Linked DNA regions of Homo sapiens. The protein of the gene in region 1 interacts with the protein of each later gene in a biochemical or structural test. Each region holds a gene or a part of one and is shown in the gene's direction. Other genes may lie near its edges.

Region 1 (7,040 bases):
GTGAAAACAGCTGGGTGTAAGAAGATCCGTTACAACGGTAGCTGATATTTACTGAGCACTTACTCTGTGCCAGGCATTGTTCTGAGTTTTTAAGATATATTTAATTTAATCATTCCTCATAACAAGTTTCTTTTAAAGTCAGTGCTATTACTATCTTCATTTTAAAGATGGAGAAACAGGAAACAGACATTCAGAAAGGTTAAGTAATTTTCCAAAGATCATGTATAAAAGTTAAGTGATAAGTCAGGATTCAAACCCAGGGAGTCTGGCTGTAACATCCACAGGAGCGCAGACACACCAACAAGTCACACTGCCTTCCTCTAGGAGAGAGAAGGGAGAGTGGTGGGGATTCTGGTAAACTAGAAAACATGAGTTCCAACTAAAAGGAGCAGCTCCTCCTCAGCTCTAGCTAACTGCTGCTCTGCAGGAATATAAGAATCTCTCTCTTTCTGTATTTCTCTCTTTCTTTCTTTTGAGATAGTCTCTCCCTCTGTCATCCAGGCTGGAGAGCAGTGGCACGATCATGGCTCACTATGACCTTGACCTCCCAGGCTCAAACGATCCTCCCACCTCAGCATCCTGAGTAGCTGGGACTACAGGCATATGCCACAATGCCTGGCTAATTAAAAAAGACAATTTTGTAGAGGCAGAGCCTCACTATGTTGCCCAGGCTGGTCTTGAACTTCTGGACTCAAGCTGTCCTCCTGCCTCGGCCTCCCAAGTGCTGGCATTATAGGCATGAGCCACTGGGCCTGGCCTGGATTTTCTTTTTAAAGAGACTAATATGAAATTTTAGGGGGAGAATCTCCTGATTATTCAATATTGCCAATAAAGTCAATTTTTTATTTCTTATTCATTTATTTATTTATTTATTTATTTTGAGATGGAGTTTTGCTCTGTTACCCAGGCTGGAGTGTAATGGTGTGATCTCGGTTCACTGCAACCTCTACCTCCCAGGTTCAAGTGATTCTGTGCTTCAGCCTCCCAAGTAGCTGGGATTACAGGTGCTCGCCACCATGCTAGGCTAATTTTTGTAGTTTTAGTAGAGATGGGGTTTCACCATGTTGGCCAGGCTGGTCTCAAACTCCTGACCTCAGGTGCTCTGCCCACCTTGGCCTCCCAAAGTGCTGGGATTACAGGTGTGAGCCACCACACTCGGCTTTTTATTTTTAATTTTTTAAAAAACTTTTATTTTTGCTTTAGGGGTACATGTGTGGGTTTGTTCCGTAGATAAACTGTGAGTCATGGGGGTCTGGTGTACCTATTATTTCATCACCCAGGTAATAAGCATAGTGACTCATAGGTAGTTTTTCGATCCCCACCTCCTCCCCGTCTCCACCCTCAAGTAGGTCCCAGTGTCTGGTGTTCTCTTCTTTGTGTTTAATTTTTAAAATAAACACTTGGGTGAACCCCCACACAAAGGTGTGGCTGGGTTCTGTCTAGGGGTTACCAGGTCTAGACTTCTGATTTGAGCCACTCAGTGCAGATTATTGCTGTCCTAATGATTGTCTCCTTAAAAAAATTAATTTTTGAAAACTGTCCTATTTCCTTCAAGGACCTTAGTTACTTTGTCAAGAACACCTTTTTCATAGCCAGTTCAAGTGACTCCTGCTTCATTCACAACCGCCCTGCTCTGTGCTTCTTCCTCACAGAGTGTCCCAAGGGCCCTGACATCCTGGTGGTCCTGCTCTCAGTGATGGGGGCCATTCTGCTCATTGGCCTTGCCGCCCTGCTCATCTGGAAACTCCTCATCACCATCCACGACCGAAAAGAATTCGCTAAATTTGAGGAAGAACGCGCCAGAGCAAAATGGGACACAGTAAGAGACGGGGCTGGGCGTTTTCTAAAGTCATTGGTCTGAGACTCTTAAGTGGAAGCAGCAGATGCTTTGGGTGGTCATGTTCAGCCAGTACCATCGTCTTTCCATTATCCTCTGTTCTGGAAACTGGGAGAGATGGTCTCACTATCCCCTTGTCCTTCAGCTTCCTTCAGCCTCTTAGAAATAGTGGCAGGATGTCATTCCATCTCATTCTCTTCTTTCTCCTCAAATAAATGGTTACTTCCAGGCTGGGCCTGGTGGCGCGTGCCTGTAATCCCAGCACTTTGAGAGGCCAAGGTGGGCAGATCACTTGAGCTCAAGAGTTCGAGACCAGCCTGGGCAACATGGTGAAACCCCGTCTCTATTAATAATATAAAAATTAGCCGGGTGTGGTGGTGCATGCCTGTAATCCCAGCTATTCGGGAGGCTGAAGCAGGAGGATTGCTTGAACCCAGTAGGTAGAGGTTGTAGTGAGCTGAGATTGCACCCTGCTCTGGGTGACAGAGCAGGACTCGGTCTCAAAAATAATAATAATAATAATAATAATAATAAAATAAAATAAAAGGTTACTTCCAAATCAGACTCTACTCTTTTATCCTGATTTATTCCAATTAAATAAGCATTTACTGAGAACTTTCTATATACTTAATCTTACTCTATTCTCTTTTGGCTCTTCTTTCACATTTCAACTTTTTTCCTCGACCCTCCAAATGGCTATTTGACTCCCCAAATGTCCAGAGTTAGGCTGCAAGTTTGTTCCCATTTGATGTTGACCCCAGAGCTTTATACTCAAGGGTCCCAAGAAACTGAGATGTTTCTGTTAGAACAGTGTGGAACATCCTGTACCTATGAGGCCCACAGGAATGTGTTTCTTTCTCTTTTTTTTTGGAGACAGAGTCTTGCTCTGTCACCCAGGCTTGAGTGTAGCGATCTTGGCTCACTGCAACCTTGGCCTCTCAGGTTCAAGTGATTCTCCTGCCTCAGCCTCCCAAGTAACTGGATTACAGGCGCCAGCCACTGTGCCCAGCTATTTTTTGTATTTTTAGTAGCGACGGGGTTTCACCATGTTGGCCAGGCTGGTCTCGAACTCCTGACCTCGTGATCACCCGCCTCGGCCTCCCAAAGTGCTAGGATTCCAGGCGTGAGCCACTGCGCCTGGCTAAGAATGTGTTTCTTGAAGCTACCATTATAGGATTTGTTACTTTCTGTTGGAAAATAGTTTGGGAAACCTAGTGAGGGTCTTACTTTTTCCTGATAACATGACAGTTTGTGGATAGTGCTTTCTCTTTCTCTCCCCTCCTCTCCCATTCCCTCCCCTCCCCTCCCCTCTCCTCCCCTCCCCTTCCTTTTACGCTTCCTCCCCTCCCCTTCCCTTCCTCCCCTCCTCTCCTTTTCTTTCCCTTCCCTTCCCTCCTTCCTTCTTTTTTTGAGACAGGGTCTCGCTCTGTCACCCATGCTGGAGTGCAGTGGTGCCATCATGGCTCAATGCAGCCTCCATCTCCTGGGCTCAAGTGATCCTCCCACCTCACCCTCCCAAGTAGCCAGGACTACAGGCACACATCACCGAGCCAGCTAATTTTTGTATTTTTTTCCCTTGTAGAGACAGGGTCTCACTCTGTTACCCAGGCTGGTCTAGAACTCCTGGGCTCAAGTGATCTTCCTACCTTGGCCCCTAAAAGTGCTGGGATTATAGGCATAAACCACCATGCCTGGCCATGGTTAGTGCTTGGCCAGATTAGATGAAAACAAATTAATAATTATTTGAGCAAAAGCTTTCCTCTGTGTTCTGAATTGCACCTGATACATTTCTGTCCCTTGTCCACATCTCCTATCACTGTCACAGGGAATGGAAAATAGGAGAAGGGCAAAAGAGACGGGGACACAGGGGTGAAATAGGAGAGGTTCTATCCCCGAATGCTGTGGAATCACTGAAGAGTGATAGGCTGAATATAGCTCCTTAGAAATAGTGGCAGGGAACAGGTGTGGTGGCTCATGCCTGTAATTCCAGCACTTTGGGAGGCTGAGGCAGGTGGATCGCTTGAGCTCAGGAGTTTGAGACCAGCCTGGGCAACATGAAGAAACCCCATCTCTACAAAAAAATGCAAAAATTAGCCAGACATGGTGGTGTGTGCCTGTAGTCCCAGCTACTTGGGAGGCTGAGGTGGGAGGATGTCTTGAGTCAGGGGAGGTGGAGGTTTCAGTAAGCCGAGATTGTGCCACTGCACTCCAGCCTGGGCAACAAAATGAGACCCTGTCTGAAAAAAAAAAAAAAAAAAAGAAACGGTGGCAGGATGGCATTCTACCTCATCTCCTCCTGTTATTTCCTATCAATTCCCATGCCAAGAACTAAAGTGTGAGCAAAATGAACATTATTCTGTTTCATTGATGATGTATTCCAGAGAACGGTGCCTTGGGAAAACTTCTGAGATGAATTTTAAACATTCAGGGTAGGGAAGGACTTAAGGAAGTCACTGTAAGATGCTATTCTGTTTCCTCCACAGGCCAACAACCCACTGTATAAAGAGGCCACGTCTACCTTCACCAATATCACGTACCGGGGCACTTAATGATAAGCAGTCATCCTCAGATCATTATCAGCCTGTGCCACGATTGCAGGAGTCCCTGCCATCATGTTTACAGAGGACAGTATTTGTGGGGAGGGATTTGGGGCTCAGAGTGGGGTAGGTTGGGAGAATGTCAGTATGTGGAAGTGTGGGTCTGTGTGTGTGTATGTGGGGGTCTGTGTGTTTATGTGTGTGTGTTGTGTGTGGGAGTGTGTAATTTAAAATTGTGATGTGTCCTGATAAGCTGAGCTCCTTAGCCTTTGTCCCAGAATGCCTCCTGCAGGGATTCTTCCTGCTTAGCTTGAGGGTGACTATGGAGCTGAGCAGGTGTTCTTCATTACCTCAGTGAGAAGCCAGCTTTCCTCATCAGGCCATTGTCCCTGAAGAGAAGGGCAGGGCTGAGGCCTCTCATTCCAGAGGAAGGGACACCAAGCCTTGGCTCTACCCTGAGTTCATAAATTTATGGTTCTCAGGCCTGACTCTCAGCAGCTATGGTAGGAACTGCTGGGCTTGGCAGCCCGGGTCATCTGTACCTCTGCCTCCTTTCCCCTCCCTCAGGCCGAAGGAGGAGTCAGGGAGAGCTGAACTATTAGAGCTGCCTGTGCCTTTTGCCATCCCCTCAACCCAGCTATGGTTCTCTCGCAAGGGAAGTCCTTGCAAGCTAATTCTTTGACCTGTTGGGAGTGAGGATGTCTGGGCCACTCAGGGGTCATTCATGGCCTGGGGGATGTACCAGCATCTCCCAGTTCATAATCACAACCCTTCAGATTTGCCTTATTGGCAGCTCTACTCTGGAGGTTTGTTTAGAAGAAGTGTGTCACCCTTAGGCCAGCACCATCTCTTTACCTCCTAATTCCACACCCTCACTGCTGTAGACATTTGCTATGAGCTGGGGATGTCTCTCATGACCAAATGCTTTTCCTCAAAGGGAGAGAGTGCTATTGTAGAGCCAGAGGTCTGGCCCTATGCTTCCGGCCTCCTGTCCCTCATCCATAGCACCTCCACATACCTGGCCCTGTGCCTTGGTGTGCTGTATCCATCCATGGGGCTGATTGTATTTACCTTCTACCTCTTGGCTGCCTTGTGAAGGAATTATTCCCATGAGTTGGCTGGGAATAAGTGCCAGGATGGAATGATGGGTCAGTTGTATCAGCACGTGTGGCCTGTTCTTCTATGGGTTGGACAACCTCATTTTAACTCAGTCTTTAATCTGAGAGGCCACAGTGCAATTTTATTTTATTTTTCTCATGATGAGGTTTTCTTAACTTAAAAGAACATGTATATAAACATGCTTGCATTATATTTGTAAATTTATGTGATGGCAAAGAAGGAGAGCATAGGAAACCACACAGACTTGGGCAGGGTACAGACACTCCCACTTGGCATCATTCACAGCAAGTCACTGGCCAGTGGCTGGATCTGTGAGGGGCTCTCTCATGATAGAAGGCTATGGGGATAGATGTGTGGACACATTGGACCTTTCCTGAGGAAGAGGGACTGTTCTTTTGTCCCAGAAAAGCAGTGGCTCCATTGGTGTTGACATACATCCAACATTAAAAGCCACCCCCAAATGCCCAAGAAAAAAAGAAAGACTTATCAACATTTGTTCCATGAGCAGAAAACTGGAGCTCTGGCCTCAGTGTTACAGCTAAATAATCTTTAATTAAGGCAAGTCACTTTCTTCTTCTTAAAGCTGTTTTCTAGTTTGAGAAATGATGGGATTTTAGCAGCCAGTCTTGAAGGTCTCTTTCAGTATCAACATTCTAAGATGCTGGGACTTACTGTGTCATCAAATGTGCGGTTAAGATTCTCTGGGATATTGATACTGTTTGTGTTTTTAGTTGGGAGATCTGAGAGACCTGGCTTTGGCAAGAGCAGATGTCATTCCATATCACCTTTCTCAATGAAAGTCTCATTCTATCCTCTCTCCAAACCCGTTTTCCAACATTTGTTAATAGTTACGTCTCTCCTGATGTAGCACTTAAGCTTCATTTAGTTATTATTTCTTTCTTCACTTTGCACACATTTGCATCCACATATTAGGGAAGAGGAATCCATAAGTAGCTGAAATATCTATTCTGTATTATTGTGTTAACATTGAGAATAAGCCTTGGAATTAGATATGGGGCAATGACTGAGCCCTGTCTCACCCATGGATTACTCCTTACTGTAGGGAATGGCAGTATGGTAGAGGGATAAATAGGGGGCGGGGAGGGATAGTCATGGATCCAAGAAGTCCTTAGAAATAGTGGCAGGGAACAGGTGTGGAAGCTCATGCCTGTAATTATAACCTTCAGCTACTAAGACAGGTGTGGTGGCTCACGCCTGTGATTATAATCTTCAGTTACTAAGACAGAGTCCATGAGAGTGTTAATGGGACATTTTCTTTAGATAAGATGTTTTATATGAAGAAACTGTATCAAAGGGGGAAGAAAATGTATTTAACAGGTGAATCAAATCAGGAATCTTGTCTGAGCTACTGGAATGAAGTTCACAGGTCTTGAAGACCAATATTATTTGTCAATATGTGGGGATAACCTGTAGCTGCATTCATGAGGTAGCAAATAGCAGTTTTGGCCTGTGGGGTGAACAGCTAAACAGTGTTCTGGCATCAGATAACACGGCACAAAGGGATTGTGTCTAGCTCTTTTGGAGAA
Region 2 (6,026 bases), on another chromosome or scaffold:
GGTCTGGAAATGGATGGACTGTGTTTCAGAAGGTAATTTTTTCCCCACCATGTGTATTTAATAAATTCCTACATTGTTTCTGCCATATGGCAGATACTTTTCTAAGCACCTTGTGAACCGTAGCTCATTTAATCCTTGCAATAGCCCTAAGAGGAAGGTACTTCTGTTACTCCTATTTACAGAAAAGGAAACTGAGGCACACAAGGTTAAATAACTTGCCCAAGACCACATAACTAATAAGCAACAGAGTCAGCATTTGAACCTAGGCAGTATAGTTTCAGAGTTTGTGACTTGACTCTATATTGTACTGGCACTGACTTTGTAGATTCATGGTGGCACATAATCATAGTACCACAGTGACAAATAAAAAGAAGGAAACTCTTTTGTCAGGTAGGTCAAGACCTGAGGTTTCCCATCACAAGATGAGGAAGCCCAACACCACCCCCCACCACCCCACCACCATCACCACCCTTTCACACACCAGAGGATACACTTGGGCTGCTCCAAGACAAGGAACCTGTGTTGCATCTGCCACTTGCTGATACCCACTAGGAATCTTGGCTCCTTTACTTTCTGTTTACCTCCCACCACTGTTATAACTGTTTCTACAGGGGGCGCTCAGAGGGAATGAATGGTGGAAGCATTAGTTGCCAGACACCGATTGAGCAATGGGTTCCATCATAAGTGTAAGAATCAGTAATATCCAGCTAGAGTTCTGAAGTCGTCTAGGTGTCTTTTTAATATTACCACTCATTTAGAATTTATGATGTGCCAGAAACCCTCTTAAGTATTTCTCTTATATTCTCTCTCATGATCCTTGCAGCAACCCTAAGAAGTAACCATCATTTTTCCTATTTGATACATGAGGAAACTGAGGTAGCTTGGCCAAGATCACTTAGTTGGGAGTTGATAGAACCAGTGCTCTGTATTTTTGACAAAATGTTGACAGCATTCTCTTTACATGCATTGATAGTCTATTTTCTCCTTTTGCTCTTGCAAATGTGTAATTAGAGACTTGATGGCAGTGTAGATTTCAAGAAAAACTGGATTCAATATAAAGAAGGATTTGGACATCTGTCTCCTACTGGCACAACAGAATTTTGGCTGGGAAATGAGAAGATTCATTTGATAAGCACACAGTCTGCCATCCCATATGCATTAAGAGTGGAACTGGAAGACTGGAATGGCAGAACCAGGTACTGTTTTGAAATGACTTCCAACTTTTTATTGTAAAGATTGCCTGGAATGTGCACTTTCCAACTATCAATAGACAATGGCAAATGCAGCCTGACAAATGCAAACAGCACATCCAGCCACCATTTTCTCCAGGAGTCTGTTTGGTTCTTGGGCAATCCAAAAAGGTAAATTCTATTCAGGATGAATCTAAGTGTATTGGTACAATCTAATTACCCTGGAACCATTCAGAGTAATAGCTAATTACTGAACTTTTAATCAGTCCCAGGAATTGAGCATAAAATTATAATTTTATCTAGTCTAAATTACTATTTCATGAAGCAGGTATTATTATTAATCCCATTTTATAGATTAACTTGCTCAAAGTCACATTGCTGATAAGTGGTAGAGGTAGAATTCAGACTCAAGTAGTTTAACTTTAGAGCCTGTCCTCTTAACAACTATCCTGGTTGAAAAGCAAATACAGCCTCTTCAGACTTCTCAGTGCCTTGATGGCCATTTATTCTGTCAAATCATGAGCTACCCTAAAAGTAAACCAGCTAGCTCTTTTGATGATCTAGAGGCTTCTTTTTGCTTGAGATATTTGAAGGTTTTAAGCATTGTTACCTAATTAAAATGCAGAAAAATATCCAACCCTCTTGTTATGTATAAGGAATAGTGAAATATATTGTCTTCAAACACATGGACTTTTTTTTATTGCTTGGTTGGTTTTTAATCCAGAAAGTGCTATAGTCAGTAGACCTTCTTCTAGGAAAGGACCTTCCATTTCCCAGCCACTGGAGATTAGAAAATAAGCTAAATATTTTCTGGAAATTTCTGTTCATTCATTAAGGCCCATCCTTTCCCCCACTCTATAGAAGTGTTGTCCACTTGCACAATTTTTTCCAGGAAAGAATCTCTCTAACTCCTTCAGCTCACATGCTTTGGACCACACAGGGAAGACTTTGATTGTGTAATGCCCTCAGAAGCTCTCCTTCTTGCCACTACCACACTGATTTGAGGAAGAAAATCCCTTTAGCACCTAACCCTTCAGGTGCTATGAGTGGCTAATGGAACTGTACCTCCTTCAAGTTTTGTGCAATAATTAAGGGTCACTCACTGTCAGATACTTTCTGTGATCTATGATAATGTGTGTGCAACACATAACATTTCAATAAAAGTAGAAAATATGAAATTAGAGTCATCTACACATCTGGATTTGATCTTAGAATGAAACAAGCAAAAAAGCATCCAAGTGAGTGCAATTATTAGTTTTCAGAGATGCTTCAAAGGCTTCTAGGCCCATCCCGGGAAGTGTTAATGAGCTGTGGACTGGTTCACATATCTATTGCCTCTTGCCAGATTTGCAAAAAACTTCACTCAATGAGCAAATTTCAGCCTTAAGAAACAAAGTCAAAAATTCCAAGGAAGCATCCTACGAAAGAGGGAACTTCTGAGATCCCTGAGGAGGGTCAGCATGTGATGGTTGTATTTCCTTCTTCTCAGTACTGCAGACTATGCCATGTTCAAGGTGGGACCTGAAGCTGACAAGTACCGCCTAACATATGCCTACTTCGCTGGTGGGGATGCTGGAGATGCCTTTGATGGCTTTGATTTTGGCGATGATCCTAGTGACAAGTTTTTCACATCCCATAATGGCATGCAGTTCAGTACCTGGGACAATGACAATGATAAGTTTGAAGGCAACTGTGCTGAACAGGATGGATCTGGTTGGTGGATGAACAAGTGTCACGCTGGCCATCTCAATGGAGTTTATTACCAAGGTATGTTTTCCTTTCTTAGATTCCAAGTTAATGTATAGTGTATACTATTTTCATAAAAAATAATAAATAGATATGAAGAAATGAAGAATAATTTATAAAGATAGTAGGGATTTTATCATGTTCTTTATTTCAACTAAGTTCTTTGAAACTGGAAGTGGATAATACCAAGTTCATGCCTAAAATTAGCCCTTCTAAAGAAATCCACCTGCTGCAAAATATCCAGTAGTTTGGCATTATATGTGAAACTATCACCATCATAGCTGGCACTGTGGGTTGTGGGATCTCCTTTAGACATACAACATAAATGATCTGGATGGATTAACATTACTACATGGATGCTTGTTGACACATTAACCTGGCTTCCCATGAGCTTTGTGTCAGATACACGCAGTGAACAGGTGTTTGGAGGAACAGAATAAAGAGAAGGCAAGCACTGGTAAGGGCAGGGGTTTGTGAAAGCTTGAGAGAAGAGACCAGTCTGAGGACAGTAGACACTTATTTTAGGATGGGGGTTGGATGAGGAGGCTATAGTTTGCTATAAGCTTGGAATGGTTTGGAACACTGGTTTCACTCACCTACCCAGCAGTTATGTGTGGGGAAGCCTTACCGATGCTAAAGGATCCATGTTACAATAATGGCATTATTTGGAAATCCCAGTGGTATTCCATGAATAAAACCACTATGAAGATAATCCCACTCAACAGACTCTCCGTTGGAGAAGGACAGCAACACCACCCTGGGAAAGCCAAACAGTCAGACCAGACCTGTTTAGCATCAGTAGGACTTCCCTACCATATCTGCTGGGTAGATGAGTGAAACCAGTGTTCCAAACCACTCCGGGCTTGTAGCAAACCATAGTCTCCTCATCTACCAAGATGAGCAACCTTACCTCCTGATGTCCTAGCCAATCACCAACTAGGAAACTTTGCACAGTTTATTTAAAGTAACAGTTTGATTTTCACAATATTTTTAAATTGGAGAAACATAACTTATCTTTGCACTCACAAACCACATAATGAGAAGAAACTCTAAGGGAAAATGCTTGATCTGTGTGACCCGGGGCGCCATGCCAGAGCTGTAGTTCATGCCAGTGTTGTGCTCTGACAAGCCTTTTACAGAATTACATGAGATCTGCTTCCCTAGGACAAGGAGAAGGCAAATCAACAGAGGCTGCACTTTAAAATGGAGACATAAAATAACATGCCAGAACCATTTCCTAAAGCTCCTCAATCAACCAACAAAATTGTGCTTTCAAATAACCTGAGTTGACCTCATCAGGAATTTTGTGGCTCCTTCTCTTCTAACCTGCCTGAAGAAAGATGGTCCACAGCAGCTGAGTCCGGGATGGATAAGCTTAGGGACAGAGGCCAATTAGGGAACTTTGGGTTTCTAGCCCTACTAGTAGTGAATAAATTTAAAGTGTGGATGTGACTATGAGTCACAGCACAGATGTTGTTTAATAATATGTTTATTTTATAAATTGATATTTTAGGAATCTTTGGAGATATTTTCAGTTAGCAGATAATACTATAAATTTTATGTAACTGGCAATGCACTTCGTAATAGACAGCTCTTCATAGACTTGCAGAGGTAAAAAGATTCCAGAATAATGATATGTACATCTACGACTTGTTTTAGGTGGCACTTACTCAAAAGCATCTACTCCTAATGGTTATGATAATGGCATTATTTGGGCCACTTGGAAAACCCGGTGGTATTCCATGAAGAAAACCACTATGAAGATAATCCCATTCAACAGACTCACAATTGGAGAAGGACAGCAACACCACCTGGGGGGAGCCAAACAGGTCAGACCAGAGCACCCTGCGGAAACAGAATATGACTCACTTTACCCTGAGGATGATTTGTAGAAAATTAACTGCTAACTTCTATTGACCCACAAAGTTTCAGAAATTCTCTGAAAGTTTCTTCCTTTTTTCTCTTACTATATTTATTGATTTCAAGTCTTCTATTAAGGACATTTAGCCTTCAATGGAAATTAAAACTCATTTAGGACTGTATTTCCAAATTACTGATATCAGAGTTATTTAAAAATTGTTTATTTGAGGAGATAACATTTCAACTTTGTTCCTAAATATATAATAATAAAATGATTGACTTTATTTGCATTTTTATGACCACTTGTCATTTATTTTGTCTTCGTAAATTATTTTCATTATATCAAATATTTTAGTATGTACTTAATAAAATAGGAGAACATTTTAGAGTTTCAAATTCCCAGGTATTTTCCTTGTTTATTACCCCTAAATCATTCCTATTTAATTCTTCTTTTTAAATGGAGAAAATTATGTCTTTTTAATATGGTTTTTGTTTTGTTATATATTCACAGGCTGGAGACGTTTAAAAGACCGTTTCAAAAGAGATTTACTTTTTTAAAGGACTTTATCTGAACAGAGAGATATAATATTTTTCCTATTGGACAATGGACTTGCAAAGCTTCACTTCATTTTAAGAGCAAAAGACCCCATGTTGAAAACTCCATAACAGTTTTATGCTGATGATAATTTATCTACATGCATTTCAATAAACCTTTTGTTTCCTAAGACTAGATACATGGTACCTTTATTGACCATTAAAAACCACCACTTTTTGCCAATTTACCAATTACAATTGGGCAACCATCAGTAGTAATTGAGTCCTCATTTTATGCTAAATGTTATGCCTAACTCTTTGGGAGTTACAAAGGAAATAGCAATTATGGCTTTTGCCCTCTAGGAGATACAGGACAAATACAGGAAAATACAGCAACCCAAACTGACAATACTCTATACAAGAACATAATCACTAAGCAGGAGTCACAGCCACACAACCAAGATGCATAGTATCCAAAGTGCAGCTGGAGACAGGAAAGCTGCTTGGGGAGTCTCCCAGCAGAACCTTTTAGCTCCAAACACCTGTGGTGGGACCTGGTCACTCTGAAAGGACTGCAACTCAGAGCAGAGAGCTTTAGGGAGCTATTTGCCCTATCTCTCACTAGTCATGAGGTGAGCTGAATGGAACCATCTCTTCCTTCTGATTCAGGGATATTGACTTTTTAGCAGCCTGAGT

The links.
Region 2: the proteins of ITGB3 (region 1) and FGG interact in a test that uses a peptide from one of them, tested with the Homo sapiens proteins (one study listed by BioGRID).

The regions. Positions count from the first base shown.
Region 1 is NC_000017.11:47,305,819-47,312,858, forward strand, and holds part of ITGB3 (integrin beta-3 precursor), read left to right. Parts: intron 1-1,652; coding exon 1,653-1,819; intron 1,820-4,320; coding exon 4,321-4,386; 3' UTR 4,387-7,040. UniProt on the Homo sapiens protein: Integrin alpha-V/beta-3 (ITGAV:ITGB3) is a receptor for cytotactin, fibronectin, laminin, matrix metalloproteinase-2, osteopontin, osteomodulin, prothrombin, thrombospondin, vitronectin and von Willebrand factor.
Region 2 is NC_000004.12:154,603,636-154,609,661, reverse strand, and holds the end of FGG (fibrinogen gamma chain isoform gamma-B precursor), read left to right. Parts: coding exon 1-32; intron 33-1,011; coding exon 1,012-1,196; intron 1,197-2,679; coding exon 2,680-2,957; intron 2,958-4,595; coding exon 4,596-4,828; 3' UTR 4,829-5,307; coding exon of another isoform or gene 5,308-5,322; 3' UTR 5,323-5,491; downstream 5,492-6,026. UniProt on the Homo sapiens protein: Together with fibrinogen alpha (FGA) and fibrinogen beta (FGB), polymerizes to form an insoluble fibrin matrix. Has a major function in hemostasis as one of the primary components of blood clots.